7 linked regions of the Homo sapiens genome follow. The protein of the gene in region 6 purifies or fractionates together with the protein of the main gene of each other region. This does not show direct contact. Each region holds a gene or a part of one and is shown on either strand. Other genes may lie near its edges. The genes, in order: NOC3L, RPF2, CEBPZ, ISG20L2, BMS1, PDCD11 and SPTY2D1.

Evidence for each region.
Region 1: the proteins of PDCD11 (region 6) and NOC3L purify together in Homo sapiens (affinity purification with mass spectrometry; one large-scale study listed by BioGRID and IntAct). This does not show direct contact.
Region 2: the proteins of PDCD11 (region 6) and RPF2 purify together in Homo sapiens (affinity purification with mass spectrometry; one large-scale study listed by BioGRID and IntAct). This does not show direct contact.
Region 3: the proteins of PDCD11 (region 6) and CEBPZ purify together in Homo sapiens (affinity purification with mass spectrometry; one large-scale study listed by BioGRID and IntAct). This does not show direct contact.
Region 4: the proteins of PDCD11 (region 6) and ISG20L2 purify together in Homo sapiens (affinity purification with mass spectrometry; one large-scale study listed by BioGRID and IntAct). This does not show direct contact.
Region 5: the proteins of PDCD11 (region 6) and BMS1 purify together in Homo sapiens (affinity purification with mass spectrometry; one large-scale study listed by BioGRID and IntAct). This does not show direct contact.
Region 7: the proteins of PDCD11 (region 6) and SPTY2D1 purify together in Homo sapiens (affinity purification with mass spectrometry; one large-scale study listed by BioGRID and IntAct). This does not show direct contact.

What each region holds. Positions count from the first base shown.
Region 1 is NC_000010.11:94,352,139-94,356,955, forward strand, and holds part of NOC3L (nucleolar complex protein 3 homolog), read right to left. Parts: intron 4,454-4,817; coding exon 4,397-4,453; intron 2,956-4,396; coding exon 2,825-2,955; intron 920-2,824; coding exon 758-919; intron 266-757; coding exon 172-265; intron 1-171. UniProt on the Homo sapiens protein: May be required for adipogenesis.
Region 2 is NC_000006.12:111,005,554-111,010,370, reverse strand, and holds part of RPF2 (ribosome production factor 2 homolog), read right to left. Parts: intron 2,334-4,817; coding exon 2,234-2,333; intron 151-2,233; exon of another isoform or gene 108-150; intron 1-107. UniProt on the Homo sapiens protein: Involved in ribosomal large subunit assembly. May regulate the localization of the 5S RNP/5S ribonucleoprotein particle to the nucleolus.
Region 3 is NC_000002.12:37,206,958-37,211,774, forward strand, and holds part of CEBPZ (CCAAT/enhancer-binding protein zeta), read right to left. Parts: intron 4,218-4,817; exon of another isoform or gene 4,126-4,217; coding exon 4,042-4,125; exon of another isoform or gene 1-4,041. UniProt on the Homo sapiens protein: Stimulates transcription from the HSP70 promoter.
Region 4 is NC_000001.11:156,723,581-156,725,766, forward strand, and holds part of ISG20L2 (interferon-stimulated 20 kDa exonuclease-like 2), read right to left. Parts: exon of another isoform or gene 985-2,186; coding exon of another isoform or gene 883-984; intron 769-882; coding exon 568-768; intron 1-567. UniProt on the Homo sapiens protein: 3'-> 5'-exoribonuclease involved in ribosome biogenesis in the processing of the 12S pre-rRNA. Displays a strong specificity for a 3'-end containing a free hydroxyl group.
Region 5 is NC_000010.11:42,792,316-42,797,132, reverse strand, and holds part of BMS1 (ribosome biogenesis protein BMS1 homolog), read right to left. Parts: intron 4,641-4,817; coding exon 4,519-4,640; intron 4,177-4,518; coding exon 3,989-4,176; intron 3,282-3,988; coding exon 3,142-3,281; intron 660-3,141; coding exon 1-659. UniProt on the Homo sapiens protein: GTPase required for the synthesis of 40S ribosomal subunits and for processing of pre-ribosomal RNA (pre-rRNA) at sites A0, A1, and A2.
Region 6 is NC_000010.11:103,419,967-103,424,783, reverse strand, and holds part of PDCD11 (protein RRP5 homolog), read right to left. Parts: intron 3,437-4,817; coding exon 3,217-3,436; intron 1,797-3,216; coding exon 1,647-1,796; intron 1,242-1,646; coding exon 1,126-1,241; intron 1-1,125. UniProt on the Homo sapiens protein: Essential for the generation of mature 18S rRNA, specifically necessary for cleavages at sites A0, 1 and 2 of the 47S precursor. Directly interacts with U3 snoRNA. Involved in the biogenesis of rRNA.
Region 7 is NC_000011.10:18,607,651-18,611,187, forward strand, and holds part of SPTY2D1 (protein SPT2 homolog), read right to left. Parts: intron 2,305-3,537; coding exon 2,211-2,304; 3' UTR 1-2,210. UniProt on the Homo sapiens protein: Histone chaperone that stabilizes pre-existing histone tetramers and regulates replication-independent histone exchange on chromatin.

The sequences.
Region 1 (4,817 bases), 9.1 Mb from region 6:
ATCACATAGGTAGTAAGTGGTGGAGCCAGGATTTGACCCCTGGAAGTCTGACTCTAGATTCTGTTCCTGACCATACCTGCCTCTCACTACACAACACAGAACACTGTACAGAATTCACCTTCATGATCAAGGCTAAGTATGTTACAAACTTTGAAGATATGTTTAATATACCTTTAACCATTTGTTCCAGATTTTCCAAATAAAACTTGTATTGGCTAACCAGGCCTTCTTCAAATTCTCTTAACTTCTGGGTTTCTTTTCGGGTCTGAAAAGACCAAAAAGGTCAATCATTTTTTAAAATCAGAACATTAAAAGCCCAAAATTAGTATAAAATATGTGTGTCTAGTATACACCCAGTACTATTTAAAAAAACAAAAAACAAAAAACGCGGCAGTCGTTTAGGCCAGGCGTGGTGGCTCATGCCTGTAATCTCAGCACTTTGTGAGGCAGAGGCGGGTAGATCACCTGAGGTCAGGTGTTTGAGACCAGCCTGGCCAACGTGGGGAAACCCCGTCTCTACTAAAAGCACAAAAATTAGCTGGGCCTGGTGGCGCATGCCTGTGATCCCAGCTACTGAGGGGGCTGAGGCAGGAGAATCACTTGAACCCGGAAGGCAGAGGTTGCAGTGAGCCAAGATCACGCCACTGCACTCTAGTCTGGGCGACAGAGTAAAACTCTGCCTCAAAAAAAAAAAGTCTATCTCTCCAAAATGTTTAGTTATTTTAGATAGTAATTATATCTAGCAATCTAGCATTACCTTAGTAGATTTTTCTGCTTCTGTGAGGGGCCGGATTTTATATGAAGGAGTAATATCTTTAAATAACTCCATCAGAGAAACAATTACCAGCTTTCGAACAGTAACAGCCACATCAGGATCTTGTTCCATCAACATAGAACGTAATTCTTTCAATTTTTTAATCTGTTAAAGAAATAGCTTATAAAGCTGGAGAAATCATGACGAAACAATTATGAACAAAAGACAACAGCCCCACATCCGGCAAAACAAGCGGAATTCACACAATGACTCCAAGTCTAGTCATGCCACACCAAACTCCAGACCCTGCTCACTTTACCAAGAGATAAGTCACTAAAGTCATAAAGTAATTGTATTAGTCCGTTCTTGTATTGCTAGAAAGAAATGCCTGAGGCTGGATAATTTATAAAGAAAAGAGGTTTATTTTGGCTTATAGTTCTGCAGGCTGTAGAGGAAGCTCGGTGCCTGCGTCTACTCCTGGTGAGGCCTCAGGAAACTTACGATCAAGGCAGAAGGCAAAGGGGGAGCCAGGGTGTCACAGGAAAGATAGGGGAGGTTCTAAGCTCTTTTAAACAACCAGCTCTCACATGAACTACCAGAGTGAGAAGTCACTTGTTACCACAAGGATGGCACCAAGCCATTCATGAGGGATCCACCCCTATAATCTAAACACCTCCCACCAGGCCCACTTCCAACATCAGAGGTCACATTTCAACATAAGATTTGGAGGGGACACACCTCCAAACTATATCAGTAATCATATTTTTGTCATATAGTTAGAAACATACAGACCTTAAAAAATTAGTTTACATTTATTATTTAGCTATTTTGGGAAATTCTTTTTTGCTGGATTTTCCTAAAGTACGTGTGTCCTATTCTTCTAAAAACGCTTTTCAAAATATACTAAAATGTTATATACATTAACCAAATATATCAGTCATACACATGAATTAATCAGGAATTACATGTAATATAGCCACATTAACTTGAGCTTCAAAGATAATTTCTATGATGGTTTCGACTGCTTTGATGAACTACTATTGTCTGTGAGCACAGGTTCCTGAGTAGAAGATCTGGGTTCCAATCCAGTGGCTGTTAAAATCTGGAACAAATCACTTGGGTTTTTTAAGGCTCAATTTTCCAGCTGTAAAATTAGATCAATCTCTTATGCCTATGGTTTTGTAATGATTGAGAGAATACACATAAGAAATATTCCAAATCTCTCTTCCCTAATTCTGCTCTAGATCTTCCCCTCACTTCATTAGAAAAGGACAAGTACTACTCCAAAGCATTCCCACATGAAATTTGCTTCTATAAATGTAAATAAGCTATTCTATCATTTCATAAACAAATACTTGTTATAATAGTATGCTGGGGACACCAGCATAACAATAATAATAGTATCATTTTATATGACTTCACGTATATTTCATCATATAATCCTCACCACAAAGTTTTGAAAAAGACACTGTCCTTTTTTAGAGATGAAAGAGTCTTGGATAAATAACTTACCCAAAGTCTCACAGATAGTACTTATCAGGGCCAAGATTAAACCTCAGATTTCTCTAGTTCATGTGTTATAACCATCACTAACTCAACGACTATACACATGGCACAATAACACTTTACTTTAACTTTGGCTCTAGTTCACTTAAAATATTTTCAACTTACAAATATTCCTGAACTAATTCCATACACTTCCCCTGTAGCGCGCTTTTTAAAAACTCCACGGGTATGTCAAGCAAATTTGCAAACAGGTTCCTCCTCCCTAATACAATTTTATAAATTTAAACATTTTTAGAGTTATAAGATGTCCAGTATTTTCATATATGAAGATGAGGAGAATAAGATTCAGAGAGTTTAAGTAACTTTTCTAGGATTACAAAAGAAATTAAGTTCAGACATAGCATTAAGCTAAGATTCTGTCTACTCTCTTACTCTAACCCAGCTACTATGTTTAGTTAATGCTTTTCCTTTTAGTGTATGCTTATAGGTAACAAGGGAATCTTAACAATTAGGCATTTACACCATACCTAATACAAAGAGCCTAAAGAAATTAATACTACCTACATTATTTTCTGGATCTGATAATATGGCAGATGCCAAGGCTGCAATATGCATCTTCTTCTCCTGTAATTTCTTCTTTCTCTCAATCAAATGTTCTTCTATGGTCAGCTCTTGAATAGGATCTTCAATGATCTCTAAAACAGATTAGATGTTCCCTTACATATTCCTCTGCTTACAAGTATCCAAGAATCTTAATAAAATATTTTTACAGTAATAATAATAATGACAACAGCTAAGAATTTTGTATTTACTACTACACATCATCTCCTCAACAATACAGGTACTATCATTGGACCCATTTTATAGATAAGAAAACTGAAGCAAAGGAAGAGAAAATAACTTGGCTAAGCTCATAAACCAAAGGAAAATAGGATTCAAGCTCATAAACCAAAGGAAAATAGGATTCAAACTCAGGCAGTCTGATTCTAGAACTTTTTTTTTTTTTTTTTGAGACAGGGTCTCACTTGGTCACCTAGGCTGGAGTACAGTGGCACTATCACAGCTTACTACAGCCTCCACCTCCCAGGTTCAATTGATCCTCCCACCTCAGCCTCCCCAGTAGCTGAGACCATAGGTGAGCCACAATACCCAGCTAATTTTTGTGTTTTTTGTAGAGACGGGGTTTCACCATGTGGCCCAGACTGGTCTCAAACTCCTGGGCTCAAGTGATCCTCCCACCTCAGCATCCCAAAGTGCTGGGATTACAGGCATGAGCCAGTGCAACCAGCCTAGAGCTCATATTCTTAGCTTCTATGATAATAAGCCCAAAATAATTCATATTAATTAACAAATAGGATAATCCTATTTAGTTTTTTTTTAAGTACAGAATATTCTCCTTTGTTTTTAACACTATATATTACTTTATACAAACTAATACTTCATAGTTTTGGGCTACAGAAAAACATGTCCACCTTAGGAAATTCATAGGGAACTAGATTTAATCAACACTAGCATAATCTGTAATGGTTTTATGATGGGTGACTGAAAACAGTTAAACAGTTGACCTGTAATTCATTTTTGCTATTAATGAGGTCTGCTAAGCGAAAGTAAAATTTAACTAGATTGTTCTGTCACAAATTCCAAACTAATATAATTTCAAACAATAAAATGCATTATTTCAGTTCAACTTTGATTAAATGGTCCTAGGTAATAGAAACTGACATTCAATTATATGAAACATATGCAAGTATAATTGTGCTAGAAACAAACCAAAATGACTTCATACTACAGAATCGCTTTTGTAATTTAAAGCTAAAAAGTTAACAGTTATTTGTAAGTAGTCTTTCTCTTACAATTAAAAGGAATTCAGAACAGTAATAATTAACAAGACACACTTCTTGTATGCCTAGATATTACAAATATGATTGTGTAAATTTTTCCATAATCAAAAAAATAAAGAATCTATTAATAATTCCACAAGATGAAGCTTTCAAATGTGGAAAAATGTTCAAAGTGACCTTGAAATGAGCAGTACTCCAAAATGTACCTTCCAGATTTCATCTAAAATTAACTCACATTTACTATTATGCAAAAAAATTCTCAATTAACAATTTAGTAACTGTAAAGACATATTACCTTCCTCAAGTTCCCTCTCTTCTTCTTGATCCTCTTCATCTTTGTTACTATCAGTAACTATATGGAAAACATATGTATTAAAACTGTGATATATACTTAAGTGGTAAAAACTGTAAAGAAATGCTAGGAGGTGATTACGATAAAACTCAGGATAGCAGTTACTTTTATGGGAAGAGCACAATTAGTGATTGAGGTGAGCACAAGGGAGGATTCTGGAAGCTAGCAGTAGTTTTTTTTCCTTGTCTGAATAGTAGTTTTATAGGTATGCGCTTTGTTATAAACCATGTAACTTCACATCTTTGATATCTGAACTTTTCTGTTTTATTTCACATACAAAAGAAGATACATTAAAAAAGAAAGCTAATCAAGAACAGTTAATATGCTCTAATTTTAGAAACAACAAAATTTAGTGAAAAGAAAA
Region 2 (4,817 bases), on a different chromosome or scaffold from region 6:
GTGGATTGCTTGAGCTCAGGAGTTTGAGACCAGCCTGGGCAATACAGGGAGACCCATATCTCTACAAAAAATTAAAATAAAAATTAGCTGGGCATGGTGGTGTGAACCTGTAGTCCCAGCTGCTCAGGAGGTAGAGGACTGCTTGAGCCCAAGAGGTCAAGGCTGCAGTAAGACGTGATCACACCAGTACACTCCAGCCTGGGTGACAGAGCAAGATGCTGTCTAAAAAGAAAAAAAAAAAAGAAAAAAAAAAAAATTGAGGGACAGAGAGACAGACCCAAGACCCTTTAAATTAGTACCAATCTCTTGGAAAATTAAATTACTTTCCAGAGTTATAAAAGAGCTGGCAAATATAATTGCAGAATGCTAAGTACTAATAACCTTTTAAAAATCATGGAGGCTGGGTGTGGGGGCTCACACCTGTAATCCCAGCACTCTGAGGGCTGAAGTGGGAGGATTGCTTAAGCCCTGAAGTTCAAGACCAGCCTGGGCAACACAGTGAGACCCCATCTTACAAAAAATTTTAAAAATTAGCCAGGCATAGTGGCATGTGCCTATGGTCCCAGCTACTTAGGAGGCTGAGGTGGGAGGATCACTTGAGCCTGGGAGGTTGAGGCTGCAATGAGCCATGATTGAGCTACTGCACTCCAGCCTGGGCATCAGAACACGACTTGCCTCATAAAGGAGAAAAAAATAGAAAAGGATGTAGTCCTTATATTCATTACACAAATCATTTAGAACTAGCATAGTTTGCTAGGTGTGGGTTATCTGTAGAACAACCTCACAAGGTTCTTGTTAGAATGAAGCAGTGTATATGAAGTGCCTACTATATGCCTGGCACTTAGGATGATGATGGTAATAAAGTAAAAATGAGCCAGGGCCTGTCGCAGTGGCTCATGCCTGTAATCCCAGCATTTTGGGAGGCCAAGGAGGGTGGATCGCCTGAAGTCAGGAGTTCAAGACCAGCCTGGCCAACATAGCAAAACCCTGTCTCTACTAAAAATAAAAAAAAAATTAGGCCTGGCGCAGTGGCTCACACCTGCAATCCCAGCACTTTGGGAGGGCGAGGCGGGTGGATCACGAGGTCAGGAGATTGAGACCATCCTGGCTAACACAGTGAAACTCCATCTCTACTAAAAATACAAAAATAAGCTGGGCATGGTGGCAGGTGCCTGTAGTCCCAGCTACTCGGGAGGCTGAGGAAGGAGAACGGTGTGAACCCGGGAGGTGGAGCTTGCAGTGAGCCGAGATCGCGCCACTGCACTCTAGCTTGGGCGACAGAGCGAGACTCCGTCTCAAAAGAAATTAGTCAGCATGGTGACGGGCACCTGTAATCCCAGCTACTCGGGAGGCTTAGGCAGGAGAATCGCTTGAACCCGGGAGGTGGAGGTTGCAGTGGGCCGAGATCACACCATTGTGCTCCAGCCTGGGCAACAGAGCAAGACTCTATCTTTAAAAAAAAAAAAAAAAAAGGAGCCAGGAAGGTCACTGAGGGCTTCCCGGAAAAGAAACTTGATGATCTGACACTTAAATGAATAGTAGAAACTGGATAAATAAGAGCAATATCAGAATACACAATAGAAATGTGAATAATATATTGGCAATAAACCCTTTCTAATGGAAAAAAAGAAGGCAATAGGAGATCAAGAAGGCCAAGCTACATTGGTTATATATTGTGAAAGGCCTTGTATATTCAACTCAGAAAAACTAATTAAGGTTTTTGAGTTGGAAGTCGGTGATACAAACAATCTTGAAATTTTAATCCCTCAACTTTCTAAATTTAATTTTAAATGATGCTAGGAATGACAGGAGATGGGTGCAGGAATTTTATAAAACACTATACAAGTAATACCTAAGTTACTAACACATCCAGAAATAATCATCTACACAGTACAACAGCTGCTTTAACTCTCCCGAGATACTTAGGTGCTTTCCTGCTGCTGGTAAGGGAAAAAAAAAAGAGAAAGGTCCAAAAAAAGGAGGAAAAAGAAGTTGTGCTCGCTTCGGCAGCGCATATACTAAAACTGGAACCATACAGAGAAGATTAGCATGGTCCCTGCGCAAGGATGGCATGCAAATTTGTGAAGCACTCCATTATTTTAAGTATATAAATATTATTTTTAAAATAAGAGAAAAAAGAAGTTACAAACCTAAAGTAGCAAAGTGCCACCAGTGAGAGTCTGAGACTGTCTTCCTGAGCTACCCTGAAGATAATAAATACTAAAATACTTACCAATAAGAAGACTTTTTAGTCTTCTATAATCTTCTGTTACATCGAAATCATCGCCAGCAAATATCAGCATGGGTTTTGTTCCCTCAGGACATTTACTGTTCTAAAAAAAAAAAAAAAAAGCAATTATATAATTACCAAAGTCTAAACTGTTTATATATTGATTTTGTTTTTTATTTTTATTTATTTTTTTTGAGATGGAGTCTCACTCTGTCATCCAGGCTGGAGTGCAGTGGCACAATCTCAGCTCACTGCAACCTCCACCTCCCGGGTTCAAGCAATTCTCCTGCCTCAACCTCCTAAGTAGCTGGGACTACAGGTGCACACCACCATGCCTGGCTAGTTTTTTTGTATTTTTCTTACAGACTGGGTTTCATCATGCTGGTTAGGCTGGTCTCAAACTCCTGACCTCAAATGATCCGCCTGCCTCAGCCTCCCAAAGTGCTGGGATTACAGGTGAGAGCCACTGTGCCTGGCCTATACTGATTTTAAAGTAGTCAATACTTTACACTAATTTATTTTCACATTTTATTAACTGTTCCAAAATGATGTCTGTGAATACTGATATTAGAGGCAAAAACAGAGGTGGGTTTTTTTTTCTTTTTAAAGAGACAGGGTCTCGCTGTGTTGCCTAGGCTGGACTCAAACTCTTGGGCTCAAGGCATCCTGCAAGTAGCTGGGACTACAGGTGCAGGCCTGGCTAAGATGACATTTTTAAGCTTCTAGACTTCTATACTAAAAAAAAAATTATTTGTTCCATTCATTTACATTACCAAATAAAAGATGGCAAAAGAATGATGTAAAGGGCTTTTTTAACATTAGTCTACGCAAAGAATAAAATTAAAAGTTACTCTTGCAAAAGGAAAACAAAACAAAACAAAACATAACACAACACAACCAACCAAGCAACCAAAATAGACTTCTGATGGCCAGCAACCCTGAATCAAAATAAATTTAAGGCCAGGTGTGACGGCTCATGCCTATAATCCCAGCACTTTGGGAGGCCAAAGCAGGAAGACAGCTTGAGGCCAGGAGTGAGTTCAAGACCAGCCTGGGCAACACAGTGAGACCTCATCTCTACAAAAAACCTTTTTTTTTTGAGACGGACTTTCACTCTTGCTGCCCAGGCTGGAGTGCAATGGCGCTATCTCGGCTCACCGCAACCTCCACCTCTCAAGTAGCTGGGACTACAGGCATGTGCCACCACGCCTGGCTAATTTTGTATTTTTAGTAGAGATGGGGTTTCTCCATGTTGGTCAGGCCGGTCTCGAACTCCCGACCTCAGGTGATCTGCCCGCCTTGGCCTCCCAAAGTGGTGGGATTACAGGCATGAGCCACTGCAACTGGCCAAAAAAAACTTTTAAAAATTAGCTGGGCATGCTGGTGAGTGCCTATGGTCCCAGCCACTCGGAACGTGAGGTAGGAGGATCGCTTGAGCCTAGAAGGTGGAGGCTGCAGTGAGCCATGATCGTGCCACTGTACTCCAGCCTGGGTGACAGAGTAAGACCTTGTCTCATGAATAAATAAGTTTAATTATAATTTATTTGTACCACTGTGCCTTTCCCACTATACCCTATAAAAAGTATTTTAAAATGAAGGCTATGGGCTGGGCACAGTGGTTCACGCCTATAATCCCACCACTTTCAGAGGCAGAGACGGGGCTGATCACTTGAGGTCAGGAGTTCAAGACCAGCCTGGCCAACATGGTGAAACCCTGTTTCTACTAAAAATAGAAAAAATTAGCTGGGCGTGGTGGTACACGCCTGTAGTCCCAGCTACTCCAGAGGCTAAGGTAGGATAATCGTTTGAACCCAAGAGACAGAGGTTGTAGTGAGCCGAGATTGCACCACTGCACTCTAGCTTGGGTGAGAGCGAGATGCCATCTCAATAAAAAAAAAATGAAGGCTATAGGCTAGGTGTGGTGGCTTACACTTGTAATCCCAGCACTTTAGGAGGCCAAGAAGGGCAGATCGCTTGAGCCCAGGAGTTTGAGACCAGCCTGGGAGACACGGTCTCTACAAAAAAATACAAAACAGGCTGGGCACGGTGACTCACCCTTATAATCCCAGCACTTTCGGAGGCTGAGGCAGGCGCATCACTTGAGGTCAGGAGTTTGAGACCAGCCTGGACAACATGGTAAAACCCTGTCTCTACTAAAAAACACAAAAATTAGCCAGGTGCAGTGTGCCTGTAGTCCCAGCTAGTCGGGGCTGAGACAGGAAAATTGCTTGAACCCAGGAGGTGGAGGTTGCAGTGAGCTGAGATAGCGCCACAGCACTCCAGCCTGGGCGACAGAGACTCCGTCTCAAGAAAACAATAACAAACAAACCAAATACAAAACAATTAGCCAGGTGTGGTGGTGCACATCTATGGTCCCAGCTACTTGGGAGGCTGGGGTGGAAGGATCACTTGAGCCCAGGGAAGTCCAGGCTGCCATGAGCCGTGCTCTTGCCACTACACTCCAGCCTGGGATACAGAGTAAGACCCTCAAAACAATAAATAAATAAAAATAAAATGAAGGCTAAATTAAACTACCAGCTGGACATTCACATGAGAAGTAATATAATTTTACATAAGCTATAGAAAG
Region 3 (4,817 bases), on a different chromosome or scaffold from region 6:
AGATATTCCATGCAAATGGAAACCAAAAGCAAGCAGGACTAGCTATTCTTATATCAGACAAAACAGACTTTAAAGCAACAACAGTTAAAAAAGACAAAGAGGGACATTACATACTAGTAAAATGATTAGTCCAACAAGAAATGTCATAATCCAAAATATATATGCACCTACCACCAGAGCTTCCAAATTTATAAAACCATTACTACTAGACCTAAGAAATTAGACAGATGGCAACACAATAATAGTGGGTGACTTCAATACTCCACTGACAGCCCTAGACGGGTCATCAAGACAGAAAGTCAACAAAGAAACAATGGACTTAAACTATACCTTAGAACAAATGGACTTAACAGATACCTACGGAACATTCTACCCAAAAACTGCAGAATATACATTATTTTCACCAGCACACGGAGCATTCTCAAGGATAGACCATATGGTAGGCCACAAAACAAGTCTCAATAAACTTAAGAAAACTGAAATTGTATCAAGTACCCTCTCACACCACAGTGGAATACAATTGGAAATTAACTCCAAAAGGAACCCTCAAAACTATATACAAATACATGGAAATTTAATAATCTGCTCTTGAATGATCTTTGTGTCAACAATGAAATCAAGATGGAAATTAAAATTTTTTGAACTGAACAATAGTGACACAACCCATCAAAACCTCTGGGATACAGCAAAAGCGGCACTACATTTAGTAAGTTCACAGCATTAAATGTCTACATCAAAAAGTCTGAAAGAGCATAAACAGACAATCTAAGCTCACACCTCAAGGAACTAGAGAAACAAGAACAAATCAAACTCAAACCCAGCAGAAGAAAAGAAATAACAAATATCAGAGCAGAACTAAATAAAACTGAAGCAAACACTACAAAAGATAAATGAAACAAAAAGCTGGTTCTGTGGAAAAATAAAGAAAATCGGTAGACCATTAGCAAGATTAACCAAAAAAAGAAGAGAGAAGATCTGAATAAGCTCAATTAGAGACGAAATGGGAGATACTACAACCGATACCACAGAAATACAAAAGATCATTCAAGGCTACTATGAACACCTTTATGCACAAAAACTAGAAAACCTAGAGAAAAATGGATAAATTCCTGGAAATATACAACCCTTCTAGATTAAACCAGAAAGAAATGGAAACTCTGAACAGACCAATAACAAGTAGCACGACTGAAACAGTAATAAAAAAACTGCCAACAAAACAAAGTCCAGGACCAGATGGATTCACAGCTGAATTCTATCAGACATTCAAAGAACTGGTACCAATCCTACTGAAACTATTCCAAAAGATAGGGAAAGAGGGAATCCTCCCTAAATCATTCAATGAAGCCAATATCGCCCTAATTCCAAAATCAGGAAATGACATAACAAAAGAAAACTAGAGACCAATATTCCTCATGCACACAGATGCAAAAACCCTCAACAAAATACTAGCTAACCAACTCCAACAGCATATCAAAAAGATAATACACCATGATCAAGTGGGTTTCTTGCCAGGGATATAGGGCTGGTTTAACATACGCAAGTCAATAAATATGATATACCACATAAACAATTAAAAACAAAAATCATATGATCATCTCAATAGACGCAGAAAAAGCATTTGACAAAATCAAGCATCCTTTATGATTTAAACCCTCAGCAAAACTGGCATACAAGGGACGTACCTTAAAAGTAATGAAAGCCATCTATGATAAACCCATAGCCAACATTATACTGAACAGGGAAAAGTTGAAAGCATTCCCCCTGAGAACTGGAACAAGACAAGGATGCCCACTTTCACCACTTCTATTCAACATAGTACTGGAAATCCTAGCCAGTGCAACTGGACAAGAGAAAGAAAGGGCATTCAAATCAGTAAAGAGGAAGTCAAACTGTCACTATTCACCGATGATATGATAGCATACCTAGAAAACCCTAAAGACTCATCCAAAAAGATCCTAGATCTGATAAATAAATCCAGCAAAGTTTCAGGATACAAAATCAATGTGCGCAAACCAGTAGCATTGCTATACACCAACAGCAACCAAGCTGAGAATCAAATCAATTACTCTACCCCCCTTACAACACCTGCCAAAAAAAAAAAAAATAATAATACTTAGGAATACACCTAATCAAGGAGGTGAAAGATCTCTAAAAGGAAAACTACAAAACACTGCTGAAAGAAACCACAGACACACACAAATGGAAACGCATCCCATGTTCATGGATGGGTAGAATCGATATTGTGAAAATGACCATACTGCCAAAAGCAATCTATAAATTTAATGTAATTCCCATCAAAATGCCATCATCATTCTTCACAGAACTAGGAAAAAAAATCCTGAAATTCATATGGAACAAAATAAGAGCCTGCATAGCCAAGCAAGACTAAACAAAAAGAACAAATCTAGAGGCATCTCATTACCTGACTTCAAACTATACTACTAGGCTATTGTTACCAAAATAGCATGGTACTTGTACAAAAACAGGCACGTAGACCAATGGAACAGAATAGAGAACCCAGAAATAAAGCCAAATACTTACAACCATCTGATCTTTGACAAAGTAAACAAAAACAAAGTGGGGAAAGGACACCCTATTGAACCATTGGTGCTGGGATAACTGGCAAGCCACATGTAGGAGAATTAAACTGGATCCTCATTTCTCACCTTATGCAGAAAACTCAAGATGGATCGAAGACTTAAAGATAAGACCTGAAACTGTAAAAATTCTAGAATATAACATTGGAAAAACTCTTCTAGACATTGGCTTAAGTAGAGTTCATGACCAAGAACCTAAATGCAAATGCAACAAAAACAAATAGATGGGACTTAATTAAGCTAAAAAGCGTCTGCATAGCAAAATAAATAATCAGCAGAGTAAATAGACAACCCATAGAGTGGGAGAAAATCTTCGTAAACTATGCATCTGAGAAAGGACTAATGTCCAGAATCTATAAGGAACTCAAAAAAGTCAGCAAGAAAAAAACAATCCCATCAAAAAGTGTGTTAAGGATATGAACAGACAATTCTCAAAAGATATACAAATGGTCAAGAAACATATGAAGAAATGCTCAACATCCCTGATTATCAGGGAAATGCAAATCAAAGCCACAGTGCAATACCACCTTACTCCTGCAAGAATGGCCGTAATTTAAAAATAAAAAAAATTTCAGATGTTGGCATGGATGTGGTAATAAGGGAACACTTCTACATTGCTGGTGGGAATGTAAACTAGTACAACCACTATGGTAAACAGTATGGAGAGTCCTTAAAGAACTGAAAGTAGAACTATCATTTGATCTAGCAATCCCACCACTGGGTACTACCCAGAGGAAAATAAGTCATTATATAAAAAAGACAAACACACAGATTTATAGTAGCACAATCTGCAATTGCAAAAATATGGAACCAACCTAAATGCCCATCAACTAATGAGTGGATAAAGAAAATGTGGTATACATATACCATGGAATGCTACTCATCCATAAAAAGGAGAGAAATAATGGCATTCGCAGCAACCTGAATACAGCTGGAGACCATTATTCTAAGCGAAGTAATTCAGGAATGGAAAACCAAACATTCTATGTTCTCAGTTATAAATGGGAGCTAAGCAATGAGGATGCAAAGGCTTAAGAATGATATAATGGACTCTGGGGACTTGGGGGGAAGAGTGGGAGGCAGTGGGGGATAAGAGTACACATTGGGTGCAGTGTACTGCTTGAGTGATGGGTGCACCAAAATCTCAGAAATCACTACTAAAGAACTTACCTATGTAACCAAACACCCTACCTGTTCCCCAAAAACAACTGAAATAATGATAACAAATTTTTAAAAAGTGAATGAAAAGATGATCCAGAGATATCTGAATGCGAGAAACAATTCAAAATGTGGAAAATAATTTCCACTTAACATCTTTCTTAAAAAGAACCCCCCCCACCCCTGAATTTTATTAATCAAATTTAGGAGAGTTCATTTCCCAAAATGATAATGACACCTTTCACATGGACACTGCTTTTAAAAGATATTAAATGTATTTTCTTACCTTGAAATGAGCCAGCAAAGTCAAAATCATCTGTACCTTTTCTCTTGCTTTTCTTAGTACTGACTTTGGAGTGGACTTCAAGTTCTGTTACACGAAAAAATTTGCTAATAAGCAATTTAAAAACAATAAGACTGGAAAATATTACTCCAAGATATGCTAAAATCTTTATTCTGATGGTAAGGCACTATACTGCTATTCCATGTGGGTTTTGTAATTCCACTAGCATAGGCTTGAGGACAGACTGAGAAAAAGACTCTAAGAATTGGCACAGTTCTAATATTTTGTGCAAGTACAAAATTTTCTAAATAGCTTCATTAATAAGACCAAATAATATAAAACCCCTTAAAACAAGAAACTTCTGCTGTGGTTCAGAATAAGTAAGAAGAATGTTGGGCAGGCATGTGCATGCTGGAGGTATGTGAAAGGACAGAAAGGTCAGACAACAGTCTAGAGACAATTCTGGGTGTTCCTTGCTAATTTACAAGATAAAATATTCACCTTCATCTATGCTGGGCTATGATGAATACTGATTAACTTTTATAAACTGCTAATTACTATCAAAAAATGGCAGCATTTCAGCTCAACATGTATTGTACAGAGAAGCTAGCTGCTGGTTAAAGTAAAAGTCCAAAGCTCAAAAAGCTGCTTAAAAGAAAACACACATAACACACAATAAAAACCCTTCAGCTCCAAACGAGAAGGGAAAAGGTCCTTTTAAGTTTCTGGCTGACATGAGTATTAATTTGAATACAGGGCTATATTAAAAACCTTTAGCA
Region 4 (2,186 bases), on a different chromosome or scaffold from region 6:
AGCCTACAAAGACAGAATTCTGGTGGGGTCCTACTCCTTATGTAATTTCAGGGGTTCAACTCCTAGGAAGTCTTTGCCACTGTCTACCTCAGTCCTTTCTGTGGCAGTATGTATAAGCCATATTAGGTTCTGTAGAGATAGAACATACCAGGTCAAAGACAGGTCTTCTGAGTCTTCCACTTTCCCTAGTTCCTTAACTGCTCTATATGTGACATATGTCCCCATCTTCCTGCCAGATGGGCCACCCTTTGCTGAAATATAGCGTGTAAAATACGAGCGGTCCTTGCATCCACTACACGGTCTCTTGGACCACCACTGCTACCTGCTTTCTTCCTTAGTTAGGGTTTTATATCTACTTAGGACTTTTTCCCTTTTCCAAAGCACACTTTGAAACATTCTATGAGGTAGACAACAGGAATTATTATCCTGTGTACAGATGGAGCTCTTCCCATCACAGCAGCCCACCTGGATCTCTACAACCACAGGACTTCTGAGATCAGAGTCTGGCTAGGGGCATCAACGAGAGCCATGTCCAAGATGGGGGCGGGGGATGTGGGGAGATGCTACCTGGATATCCCGGTTTAGCAGCTTCTTGGTGAGATGCTTCAGAGACATGGTGGCATTCTCCGGGCAGTCAGCCTTCCGGTTGAGGGGGGGGATATGGGAGGTGTCACGGGTGAGGGACTTGGGGTGAAAGTACTGAAGGGCTTTGAAGTCGTTGTGGATGGCATGCCCCACCACTATCTTCCCTGTGAGTATCTTCAAGATCTGGAAGAAGTGTGGGAAGAGAGTGGTGAGAAGGAAGACTGAAGTGGAACCCCTGCATTCTGAAAGCCCAACATGACCATCAATCCCTTCTGGATTCTTTCACCAACTGCCTACCTCTCCATCCTTGAAATGCTCACTCCCACAAGTTTTCTTTCTTCTGGAATCCACCTTCCTCTTCCACAGGTGATTTCCATGGTATACCCTGTTTGGACTCATACTGCCAGTGGCTCCTTACCTTCTTATTGATCTCCACCCCATGACATTAATTTGCCTTCAGTCCTAAATGACACTCATGTTTGAGATGTCCATGTATTTAGTTCAGTTCTGGCTTGCTACATGAAGTCCTTTAACTATTACCATTATGTTGGCCTTAGACACATGGCTGGGACCCGGGCTCCAGGGAGGCTAACAAAAGCCCAAAATTACATGCAATTAGATGTGTATGGGTACTAGAGGAAGAGAATCTGTGGCTTTCATCAAATTCTCAGAGTCTACAAACCGTAAAAAATTAAGAATCACATATAAACTAAAGTTGCAGAAGCAACCTTATTCACACTAGTTTTGGAACCAAGTAAAATAAAAATAACTTCTCAATATTTCAGGAAACTGTTTTTTTTTTTTGAGATGGAGTCTTGCTCTGTTGCCCAGGCTGGAGTGTACTGGCGCGATCTTGGCTCACTACAACCTCCGCCTCCCGGGTTCAAGCGTTTCTCCTGCCTCAGCCTCCCAAGTAGCTGGGACTACTGGCACCTGCCACCATGCCTGGCTAAGTTTTGTATTTTTAGTAGAGACGGAGTTTCACCATATGGGCCAGGCTGGTCTTGAACTCCTGATCTTGTGATCTGCCCGCTTCAGGCTCCCAAAGTGCTGGGATTACAGGTGTGAGCCACCACACCTGGCCTTCAGGTAACTTATTTTTTAAAAGAGATGAGGTCTTGCTATTTTTCCCAGGTTGGCTGGCCTCAAACTCCTGGGCTCAAGCAATGCTCTCACCTCAAACTCCTGAGTAGCTGGGATTACAGACACATGTCACCACACCTAGCCATTTCAGGCTCTTGAAGTAGGAGGACATGCTACCAATGAGGACAACCGAAGAACACACCACAGGCTCTGAAGGCCATTCCCAAATGAGGTTCCAAACAGGTTTTCAACAAAAGTGACAGTCCTGCATAGCCTCCCAAAGGGACCCCCTCTGAAGGGGCTAGGCTCATCTGGACATACCTTAGTCTCATAACCCCAGCTTGGCACTGGGGAAGTGCTTTATGATGAAAACCAGACGTAGTCCCGTGAACTAGATATTTCGTTACTCCTGACTTCACCTACTTACTGTCCACCACCACCTTCACTTCTTATTAACCTCGACATATAGCCCTCATCAAAGCTGGGCAGATTTGCTGTCTCAGACCCGTCCCATCTTC
Region 5 (4,817 bases), about 61 Mb from region 6:
CCAGTTTCTGACCACTGCTCACTTGAGAAGGCTTTGAAAGCTTTTTTCTAATAGCCTCTTCATTTTCTGAGTCTTCTTCCTCTGCACTGAGTGAGGAGCTTTCTTCAGATTCATCTTCAGATGCAAACACCTCTTCAGCTGTGCAATGCCCAGAATCGAAAGTGGGGAGAGCTGCTTTCTTCATCAGCAAAGACTTCTCCAGATTCACACGGTCACTCTGGCAATTAGCTGGTGACAGCCCTGCTTTACTACCTTCTCCAGCAGCCTTTGATCCTGAAATGCCCTTCTCTCCTGCAGTGCAGTCCTCTTCTTCACTGCTTTCATCAGCTTCCTCCGCTTCCCCTTCTTCCGCTGAGCTCCTCTCAAGGTCATCGTCACTGTCAGCAAATGCTGGCAAATCCATTTCACTGTCTTCTTCCAACTCAAGTTTCCGTCGTTTGATGCCCTTAACAGCCATATACTGATCAGTCATCTCAGCATTTTCCTCCTCTTCTGCTTCCTCATCACTAGAGCCGTTTTCCAACCCGTCATCTTCAGACATTTCATCATCTTCTTCATCATCACTATCTCCAGATTCATCTTCATCTCCGAAAATGGCTTTCCGACGCATTCGACCAGTGTTCAAGTCCATTTGTTTTTCCTCCTTTGGCATCATTAGCCTGTATTACCAAGGAAATACAAAATAATTCAATTTGTACATTAATCAGCTAATCTAGAAATGGCAATATAGTCAATGAAAATACAAAGAAATAGAAAATGTCAAGGAATTGTTTAAGATGACATAGCATAGGGAAAATATGATTTGATAAACATTGGAAGAGTTAAGAAGCAAACTCGGGCATGGTTCCCTAACACCACACTTCAAAAGAACTTATAGAGAGAATAAAGGAATAACCCTTAAAAAACAAAAATCTAATTTTAGAAAAAAATTGCTCAAAAGAGAAGTTACTGTTTTGTAGATCTTTTGGAAAGCTGATTAATTTCTAAGCTAAAAACACATGATCCTTAAGAGAAATGGGTAAGTCCAGGCCCAAAGCAGAAAGAAGGCAAAATGAGCCTGGATCCTCTTGTTCTGTCAGAAAGTGAGAAATGCTCAAAGACTAACAGAGACAGTTGAAAGGACACAGGAGACAGGCTGAAGGCTCCTGCAGCCAAATCTGGGCCAGCATAGGCATCAGGAAGAATAATGATAGTGATGGAAAATAACCCATGGAACAAAACACAAGTGCATTAGTCAGCAGTGATACCGAAATAAAGGGGAGAAGAGAAAGCTCTTTGTTAAAAATGCCAGCTAACAAACGTAGGAGGAATGACAGAGGAAGAACATCCATTTTAAGTCACCAGTGCTATAACTGATACAGAAGAATCATCAGGAAGCTAAAATCACAGGATAAAAGAAAACTGTATGAAGCTATTTAATGTAGCAAGATATATAAAATTAAGAAAACATAAATTTGAAAAAACTGAAAATCATACCATAAGAGACGGGTAAGTTAGAATACAGCAATAATAGGCCAGGGGTAGTGGCTCACATCTGTAATCCCAGAACTTTGGGAGGCCAAGGCAGGAGGATTGCTTGAGCCCAGGAGTTTGAGACCAGCCTGGGCAACATGGTGAGACCTAATCTCTAGAAAAAAAAAAAAAAATTAGCTAGGAGTGGTGGCGCACTCCTGTAGTCCCAGCTACTTGGGGGGCTGAAGCAGGAGGACCACTTGAGCCTGGGAGTTCAAGGCTGAAGTGAGCCAAGATCATACCACTGCACTCCAGCCTGGGAGACAAAGCAAGATCTTGTCACAAAAAAAAAAGAATACACCAATAATAACAAAATGATGACTACATAAAGACTGTATAGAAGAAGGAAATGACAAAGGACTATAAATCATGCTGCTATAAAGACACATGCAAACGTATGTTTATTGCCGCACTATTCACAATAGCAAAGACTTGGAACCAACCCAAATGTCCAACAATGATAGACTGGATTAAGAAAATGTGGCACATATACACCATGGAATACTATGCAGCCATAAAAAAGGATGAGTTCATGTCCTTTGTAGGGACATGGATGAAATTGGAAATCATCATTCTCAGTAAACTATCACAAGAACAAAAAACCAAACACCGCATATTCTCACTCATAGGTGGGAATTGAACAATGAGAACACATGGACACAGGAAGGGGAACATCACACTCTGGGGACTGTTGTGGGGTGGGCAGAGCGGGGAGGGATAGCATTGGGAGATATACCTAATGCTAGATGACAAGTTAGTGGGTGCAGCGCACCAGCATGGCACATGTATACATATGTAACTAACCTGCACATTGTGCACATGTACCCTAAAACTTAAAGTATAATAAAAAAAAAAAGAAGGAAATGATAATATAGAAATAAAATTATGTATTTTAACTGTAACTATATTAGAGGAGAGTATTCTTGTAGACAAAGATGACTAGAAGGATATGCAAAAGTGAAAATAGCTAGTAATCCCATTATAAAGGAGTGATCTTTCGGCGAACACTTCGTACCTGTCAGGCATTCTGCTAGGTAGTTTATGCACATTGTACCAAATTACATACTAGATAATCTCAAAATTTTCAGATAAATTTTACTGGGAGTCATAAATCAATACAACAAAACCAATGTTTTGCAAACATCCACTGCATATAAAGGTATACAAATCCCCAACCCAGACTGGAAAATAATTCACATGAGCCATACATCCACGGAAACCTACCCAGAGGAGATAATACAACACAATCTAAATAAAACTTTCAGAGACAAGGCATGTGGCTTCTGGACAGCCACAAACTCCCTGACTTTGCTCTAGTGTTTTGGCCACCAAAAGAAAGCCAAGTGGCTTCAGGTCTCTTAAAAAACAAAAGGCAACCTATGGAAGATGGCATGGTATTTGAGGAATATTTGGGGTCTGTTGAAAAATGCATCCTGCAATTTATTTCAAGAAAAGACTCCCTTGTAATGTCAGGTAAGTGAAGAGCCCTCAGAGACACATGCACACACAAAGAAAAACAAAACAACATAGAATGAATCCCACCGAAATGTGTTATGATGGCTGAATTATGGGTGATATGATCTTTTGTAATACATCTTTTTATTAAAAATAGAAAAAAAGCAGACTTACCCTTGATTATCTATATCCTCTGACCCAAGTGGCTTGGAATCAGAAAACAGCGTCACTCGACTTGAAGCCATCTTGGCATCAATGGTGGAGTGGGTAGAGATGAGACTCTGGACCAGCTCATGGGTGGGCCCCACTTCATCCTGTCAAGACCACCAAGAAAGGGCACGTGAGGAAAGCACAAAGATCCTGGAGAGACACGAGCTTCACTCAGTTTCTCAAAATTATCTTAGACACATTTCCTAAGAACCTTTCTTAATGCCTCAAAAAGCAGAGAAGAAAATCCTTACAACAAAGCTTGAAATGGATCCCCATCTCCATTAAACTTTTCCAAAGTTCAGGGAGTATATAACCTGATAACCTAAACAACCTAGCTAGAAAAACCTCAGCTCCAAAGCTACAACAATGCTAGCTTTTCTAATATTTTAAAATAAGCCGATTTTAACCCAATAAAATTCCACTTCAGAACAAAGAAATAAATATTTGAAATCCACTTTAAAATACAGCATGAGGAGACCATTGTGAATGAGAAAAAGACCAATGAAAGCTGGAAAGCACACTGATTTTGTAGAAACGGGGATGGGCCGTGCAGGCGCCACACAGCAGCAATGCCTGTGCTGGGGCCATGGATCAAGGAGGAATGAAGGAGAGGACTCTTCTGCTTGGTACAATGAAAAAAAAAGTATTATTTTTATCCTATATATTTACAATATGCATTTGGGCCTTTATTATAAGTACAAGAGAAAAATCTTCAATAAATAAAAGCTGAGTACATTACTTTTTGTGATTAAAAAATAGATTCAGAAAGAATACTGAAAGTTCAGAGAAATGACTCCCGTCTCACCGATACCTGAAAAACGTGGCTGCCACCAAGGTCAACATAGACAGCGTCTTTGTCATACAGCACACCCCCAACTCCAGAAAGAGGCGCATAAACCAGCTTCTCCTTCTCATTTAAACAGCGCTTCTTTTGTTGTTCAGGAAGAGCGCAAGGGTCTGGGAGGAAACTGATGTCACTCACGGCAAAATCTCCTACCCCTGGAAGACAGAACCCAAAAGCCAGCTTCAGCTGACAAGAAGTCAGAAGCATCTACCATTGACTAGGGGGTTAAATATGATCCACAGTCCAAGGGCTTAACCCATAACACTAAAGAAGGGCATTGTGCCACACTGGAACAGTGGCCCCCTAGCTACAAGACAAGAGGTCAGAGAAGAGGGGATTCAGTAACACCTTTGCAGGCCTACACATAGGTGGCTTACTTTTAAAACCTCCAGCAAGGCCATCTTCCCTTGTTTGGTCATTTTTCAGTTTTCCTGAGAAATGAAGCCATCCCAAGAATCCTATGTGTAATTCTAGTATGTTCTACAACAAGAGAATACCTGGCATGTGAATTTGGCTTTTATTTTTCAAGTGTGCTCCTCTTAAATAACCATAAAGTGACACCTTCCGGTCACATTTGATGTTTGTTCGGATATCCTCTGGGTTTGTCAAATCTTCCATCCTAGAAAAATAAATTCAATCACAGCAGAAATGAATGCCAAAAGTTCCTATACCTCCTTTCATGTGTCAATGATTCATCACACTCTTGTCCATTAAGCACGTCATTTAGAAAACTAGAAAATGCAGAAATAAGGAGGCACCATTCACCATCCACCAGAGGAAAAGGGGCAGACACACA
Region 6 (4,817 bases):
GCCTCTGAATTACCTTGGCTTGGTTTTTGCTTTGCTTTGAATTTAAATTGCAAGACCCTATCCTAGATCTAGTAAATCTGAATTTTACAAGTTATTGAGATAATTCTGATGCACAGCCTTGCAACCTCTAACAGCTCTCTCAGCTTAGAGACACTGTGGTTCCTGAATCTGTCCTGCAGCTCCCCCACCCCCAATTAATCACTCTTCAACCCAAGCAATGAATAGAGTCATTACTGAGAGCTTATTGTGTGCAAGGCACCTAGCCTCTCTTTCCTCAAAATCCAAATTGTGCTCATGCTCTTATATGCCCAAGCTTCCCTTAGGTGATAAAATGGTACAGGGTCCTGCTAGAAAACTGAATGAGAGGTTAGTATTGCTTTCCATTCTCTCTCTGTCCTAAACTCTTAATACTGTAAGCAACTGGAAATTAAGGATTATATCTACACTGCACCATACTCTGTGCAACTAGGTGCCTAATAAGTGCTTTAGACAATAACCAAATATATTCATCACCCAGAGAAAAATAATAATTTTTCCCTCAAACCCATTCTTATGTCACACAAAAGTGTCCAGAAGACAAGGCAGGCGAGGGTGTGGACGCACAGCTTGGAGGTCTGAACTGCCCACAGACATGCTGTTTGGCTCATGGGATGTTTTTAAAAAAATAAGTTTCCAACATTTTCAGCTTTTATTTCAAATAAAAATCCAAATTCTGCCTTCTCTTAAAAATCAAAGATTTAGCAGCAGTAGCCCCAGATTCCCACCCGGCAACAATTGGGCGGGACTGAACAGTCTCAGCCCCACAGGGGCTGGGCATGCACTCTCCAGCTCGTCAGAGTCCCAGGCCAGCCACTCCCTACCCACACAGCCAGCTCCACTCCTGCACACTATTTATCTGTCTGGCCCTAAAGATGGAGTGCCCATGTAACTTATCACCGGAACCAGAACAGAAGTCAGCACTATGAACCACACCAGGACAAGAGGTCTAAACCGGGGGTGTCCTGGATCCATCCAGACATAGGGCTACCCTTGCTACAGGCATCTGAGTTGGAATCCCTGAACTGGAGTGGGGTTGAAGGGTACATCATGTGAAACCATGGAAATGGAAGTCAGGAGCAAGCTTACCTTTCTAGCTTTTCTATTCACCAAGTCCTGGTGAAGGGAAACGTGCACTTCCAACTTCAAAAGATCAACATTTAAGATAACAACCTTCTTTTTCTGCCCAGATTCCACCTCCTGCCCTGCAGTGCAGAACCACAGTGTGATTATCCTTCTGGAACAGAGTGAAGGGAGAGCAGCACCTCTCACATGTAGCTGCTACCCCTTAGATCCAAAAAAGCAAAGAGGACACATGTCCTGGGTCCATACGGGCCATAATTAGGGAAATCAAGGGTCTACCTCCCATAGTTCAAGTTCAGGTAGGCCTTAATTTATGTAACCTAATATATAAAAATCTAGATTTACCCAATTGTAACAATTAAAGGATTCATACCTAAGCCTTTGCATTCACACAAGATAGGCATGCCAAAAATCTCTACCGAATCAACTCACCTACCGTAAGTATTTAGAAATTCTATATCCAGGAGAGGGAGCAATGGACAAAGGGTCCTCCCACCAACCACAATGGGTAAGACAGAAGCACTCACCTGCGCGATGGTATCTGCTGGCTTTCAGGACCAGGTCGGGCACTGGACCCCCACTGAATACCACAGAGCCATCTTCCAACACCTCCTGCACCACTAGGTCAAGGAACATTCCTGGGGTCATCTCGGCCAGCGTCTGGATCAACACAGAGTCTGCCAGAGATCCAAAGGAAACACGGATTAGTACCATGAAAGAACTCTCACTGTTCTTTTCCTCTGGCAGTGTGCTATCACCACGGAGGACAGTGGAGCACTGGAACCACTGACAAGGTAAAATCACTTTTTGCAAAAATGTTCAGTATCCATGAAAACTCTTGTCACAAGCAGACAGACCTAAGCCCCTTGCTAATAATCCTACCTGACCATAATTCATGGGAGTAGCCAACAAATACCAGGAAGACAGGCTTTCCTTTGGTTTCTGAATTTTCACTGTCCCCTCTCAAGCCTCCTGCTATGAAATTCCATTAAAGTTACAACAACCCCACACAATGGTTCAAAGTCTAAGAGGGTCAGAATAATAACCCCTCACAAAGCCTGGCAGGTCCCAGTTCCATTTCATCTGCTGAATAAAGGAATGAAAGGTGAAAAGGCGAGTGAATTCACAGCAAATGCAAATATAAAGCCACAGAACTAAGGGAAATTTTGACTCTGGACTGGCAGTGGGGAGAAGAGGACATCTAGGATGCTCGTAATGACCTTTATCTTAAAGGGGTGTAATATAAACATTTATTGAGCTGCACACATAATAACTGTGCACTTTGGCCGGGCGCAGTGGCTCACGCCTGTAATCCCAGCACTTTGGGAGGCCAGGGCGGGTGGATCACTTGAGGTCAGGAGTTCGAGACCAGCCTGGCCAACATGGCGAAACCCTGTCTTCTCTAAAAATACAAAAATTAGCCAGACATGGTGGCAGATGCCTGTAATCCTAGCTACTCCGGAGGCTGAGGAAGGAGAATCGCTTGAACCTGGGGGGTGGAAGTTGCAGTGGCCAAGATCGCACCACCACACTCCATCCCAGGCGACAGAGTGCAACTTGGTCTCAATAATAATAATAATAATAATAATAATAATAATAATAATAATAAAATTGTGCACTTTATGCAGGTCATACTTCCATTAAAAAAAAAGTTAACCCAATTTTTTTTTTCTTTTTTTTTTTTTTTTTTTGAGACGGAGTCTCACTCTGTCACCCAGGCCGGACTGCGGGCTGCAGTGACGCAATCTCGGCTCACTGCAAGCTCCGCTTCCCGGGTTCACGCCATTCTCCTGCCTCAGCCTCCCGAGTAGCTGGGACTACAGGCGCCCGCCACCGCGCCCGGCTAATTTTTTTTTGTATTTTTAGTAGAGACGGGGTTTCACCTTGTTAGCCAGGATGGTCTCGATCTCCTGACCTCATGATCCACCCGCCTCGGCCTCCCAAAGTGCTGGGATTACAGGCGTGAGCCACCGCGCCCGGCCCCAAATTTTTTTTTCTTATGTTCTGGGAAGCCCAACAACTCACCTAACAACAGGTGTAATTTACAACACATACTCCCACCCCTGGCCCACCTCCCCTGCCCCACAGGTGCCCCACCTCGGTTGCTCATAAGGCTGCGCACGCCCTGCAGCTCCTCCAGGCACTGATTCAGGAGGAGGAGGCTGGTGATAGCCAAGTCCCCCAGACCACAGTCCGACAGCCGCAGTGACAGCAGCATCCGCTGCTTCTCCTCATCCACATTGGTCACCTTTGCCGCTACTGTCTGGCCCTCAACAAAGTGGTCACTTGTGGAGGTCACAAATTTGTCACTCATGATCTGAACAGAAGAACAGGCAGGAGATGAGAAGAGGAAAGGTCTTCATTAAGACAACCCACTTGATGTTCCTGGAAAGGGGTACGTGAGTAGGGGGAAATGGGGCCTAGGAAGCTCCCCCAAGCCCTCTCTGAACACAGCTCTACTTCCCTTCCATAAAAACAGAGCCTCCGGATTGGCTGGGAGCAGTGGCTCACGCCTGTAATCCCAGCACTTCGGGAGGCCGAGGCGGGCAGATCATGGGGTCAGGAGTTCCAGACCAGCCTGACCAACATGGTGAAACCCTGACTCTACTAAAAATACAAAAATTAGCCAGGAGTGGTGGCATGCACCTGCAATTCCAGCTACTCGGGAGGCTGGGGCAGGAGAATCACTTGAATCCGGGAGGCAGAGGTTGCTGTAAGCCGAGATTGCGCCACTGCACTCCAGCCTGGGCGACAGAGTGAGACTCCATCTCAAAAAAAAAAAACAAAAACAAAAACAAACAACAACAACAAAAAAAACAGAGCCTCCAGGAGAGGGCACCCAGTCAAGAAGGCACATTCACAGCAAGCCAGGCAGACACCAGGGCTGTCCTCACCCCTAACAACCCACGGGAACCCTCTGCCCCTCACTGGGCTTGTTTCTGGGGCCCTCCCCTCTGCTCCCATTTTTAAAATGTTTCTGGCAGGGGATGCAAATGAGATTTTCCCAGGCAAAACACCAGGGAGACAGGCCTACAGAGGGGAAGAAATACTGATGAATGATCTGCAGCAGCAATCAGCTGCACGCCATTTGCTCGCTGTCTTCCATGACTTTGGTGAGTCCCATCCCCTCAATAGGCCTCGGCTGACGTGCCAGGCACACCAGGAGGCTCTGCTAGGGGACTGCTGGGATTGTTCCCATCTGAAAGTGCAGGACTCAATGACATGGGGGTGGGGGAGGTAATAATTTCAAAGACATTCTGGTCCCTTAACACCTCAAAAACCTCAGAAGTCTGCAAAACCTGTACTCAGTAGCTCAGGATGATCAATTTCCCTGTCTAAGTGTGCTGAGAGAATAAAAACAAGTGCAGTCATCTTCACACTGGAGACTAAGGCCTTCAATGTGTAGTGTGGAGTGGGAAAGGTGTCCCTTCCTCCAGATGGTCACACAGCTGGGCGAGAGGAACATGGGCCAAAAGCTCAGCTGCACTCACCCCTCCCAGGTGCCTTTATGTCACACACACCTTAAGAGGTACCCCTGAAAATCTTTCAAAAGAGTAAAGTATCCTTGGCCAGGTGCGGTGGCTCACACCTGTAATCGCAGCACTTTGGGAGGCCGAGGCAGGTGGATCACTTAAGGTCAGGAGTTCAAGACCAGCCTGGCCAACATGGTAAAACTCTGTCTCTACTACTCAAAAAAA
Region 7 (3,537 bases), on a different chromosome or scaffold from region 6:
GAAAAACAACATGGAAGACAGGATTTGGAAACAAGGCCAAAATTTAAAAGACTTAACCTTTTTTTTCTTTTAAATGAGCCACAGAAGTGCTCTTTTATAATGTTGACGCAAATCAACATTTATATTATAGAAATGCACTCAGAAGTAACAGACACACAAGGTTAAAACCTGATTCTTCCCACTAAGTTCTGGAAATTTATTCTAACATAATGGTGCCTTTCTGTACAAAGAACTGTACCATATCATAAATTTACTGCTAGTAAACTTTAAGCCACCAGAAATCTTTCAGCTGTGACAAGCACTTGATTGTAATGACAGATTTCAGAGTCTGAATACTGAAAAATATATATATCCAATAAAAAATTTTTGAAGGGGGAATAAAAGCACATAAATGGCAGCAGAGGAATTGATGTTCTAAGCCTGTTTTATTACATGGGACATCACACTACCCTTAATTTCACTGAAGGTATCTGAAATGGGTGAGATGAAATCAATAGGATTTTCTGCTACCATTGTAACAGTTCTATATGTAGTTACAAAGGGTGTTATTCCTAGTGATGATGACACCTTTCATGGGATTCAACTTAAAAATTAAATCCTTGCACTTTCAAAGTTTGAAACTCAATTCAAAATGAGTCCGTCTTAAAAGCCTGGCTCATATGGTCCCATTAAGGGAGGCTAACAATGGTAATCTATAATACCCAAACTTGAAGAATAAAGACTTTATGGATAAAAAGGAATAAACCAAAATATTTGGGCTGTTGAAGTATAAGGGCCTGTTGTAGGACAATCCCTCCTACTTCCTAATCCCCCCCATACAATGGCTTAAGATAGCCAAAACGTTTATTGTAGAACGTTTATTATTCCTACAAGCTTATGTCTCACTTCCCCTAAGCCTCTGTACTTACAGTCAAGGACAAATGCTCTCTAGCATCATATCTCATTTTCTGTTGCTGACAGTTCTTGAGACTTGGCTTCCTTCCAGCATGATCCTAAGTCAGCCTGATTGGAACTGCTTGGACTTGAAGGTTAAGGGCTATTAAGTCCATATTTATGACTTTAAAAAGGGTAAAAATGAGTTTCCACAGCTCAGTAAAATAACGATAACAGGGAACATCCCTTCCTACCTGGGGAAAAAAATCTCTTCACAGTGCATAGTTTGAAATCAAAGTGCAATATGGGCAAAAAGAGAAGGTGGTGCTCTCGATACCATAAATTTAGTTTTTGGTTTTCTGCCATTAATATTTGCTAACAAATTCAAGCTAAAAAATGAAGTCATTAATGTCAAGAGGTATGAGGGCACCTTGGGATTTCAAAATATCTTTATGATGGGGGAGGGGAGGAGGGGAGAGCCTCACATGTTACTTCCTTATTTTATAAACTATTACTCTTTCAAATCTAATGTTTGAATAAAATATTTTTTCTTCGATATAAAAATGAATTTTTTTAGATAAAAATCAATCAGCACAGTGACCTTGTCTTACACTAAAGCCAACATAACAGTAAATCTGAAAGGAAAACTTAGAAAAGAATATTATACTGTTATAACCTGTATTTTAACTTGAAAATTTTTTCATTAATTCCTAGCCACCTAAATTAATGAGTAAGAATGCTCAGCATCCAATCCATGAATACAGAATTTATTCTACTTTGTACTTCAAAGTCACAGGATGACATCCATATGATAGTTATAAATTCTACTCTACATTTTCAAGTTCTCAATCCATAGATTAGGACAAGTCACTTTATTGCTGGCAACATTCATGGAAGGTCCAGGTTTCTCATAAAAAGACTAAGTTTGATTGGGAGCAGGGCAGTGCCCTACTCACAGATCAGCAGAAGAATTACAGAAATCAAGAGACAACCTTTTTTTTCCTTTCAAAGTAGCAAAGGAACAATAAAAGATTGGCTGACTGGTGAGTGGCCCCACATTAGAGTGCATAGCTCATCAGGATCAAGGCTGGCATCTGTGAACAGTTAACTTCATAAGAGCACAAGTGGGCATTATATCATCTGCATTACAGATTTCACCCTGGAAAATATCTGAAAATATTTTATGCTCAAATGACAGCCTGCAAATGACAGTATGCATTCCTTCTCCTTGAGTACCCAAGTATAAATCTAAAATGATAAGGGGGCTTCTTCAGTCTGAAGGCAGGAAATCCTTGCAGCAGAGCAGCTCTAGAATTTCACAAAAATAAAAGCAGCAGCTAACGCCTCTTCAGCTTCTTGGCCCTTCGACGTTGCATTTCTTCTTCTTCACGTCTCATTTCCTCTAAGTCCTCTTGCATACCCAGTCTTAAGCTGCCAAAGAATTTTTAAAGGGTATTTGTCAATATACATGAGATGACCACTTTCCTTAAAAAGAATGAAAATTCCAACTGGGAGCTCACATGGATTGTGCTGATGCTCTCAAAATGCCTCAAGGCTTTACCACTGAAAACAAACTAGCAGGGATATTTTTTTACCAGGGGCCACAGACTCAAATTGTCGTGGGAAAAAGAACTCACACACCACAAAAACCTTACTATTTCCATTAAAATAATAAAATATAGGTTTATCTCAATAGCTTTTAAAAATAAACAGCAAGAAGCATTTATTCATTAACTAACATTCTATTCTTGTTCTCTTCCAACACTTTAGTTTGAAATTTTATGGGCAAGAGGGAGAAAAAGATATAGTATTCTGGCTTGAGACTGAAGTGAATTATTTACCTATAATAACATTATGGCCGGGCACAGTGGCTCACACCTGTAATCCCAGCACTTTAGGAAGCCGAGCCAGGCGGATCACCTGAGGTCAGGAGTTTGAGACCAGCCTGGCCAACATATGGTGAAACCCCATCTCTACTAAAAATTACAAAAATTAGCTGGGCGTGGTAGCGCACACCTGTAGTCCCAGCTACTTGGGAAGCTGAGGCAGAAGAATCGCTTGAACCCGGGGAGGTGGGGGTTGCAGTGAGCCGTGACCATGCCACCGCACTCCAGCCTTGGCGACAGAGCAAGACCCTGTCTCTTAAAAAAAAAAAAAAAAAAAAACAACAATACTATAAACAAAGTAATTACTTTTTACCCCAATAGAGAAAGTATCATTAGCTTACTATCAGATAGCCAAACAGAAATCAGAGGAAATGTAATATACCTACATCCCTGAGGCCAGCAATGTTACAGGTTACCAAGATTGAGATGTGTCTGATGCAGAAAGAAAAGCAAGAATTTGCTACAACAGGATTAGGGAAAGCATCTAACATTTACTGTGTATCCACACATGTGAGGCACTGCACTAGGCATCTTGTACACGTCTTAATCCTCATTATACTTAAATGAGTAAAACAGTATATTCTCATTTTACAAAAGAAAATAGGCTGGGCATGGTGGCTCACACCTATAATCCCAACACTTTGTGAGGCTAAGGCAGGAGGATTGCTTGAGCCCAGGACTTTGGGACCAGCCTGGATAACAAAGCAAGACCCCATCTCTTAAAAACAAAACAAACAAAAAAAACAGTGATGGTCCAGTGCAGTGGCTCATGCCTGTA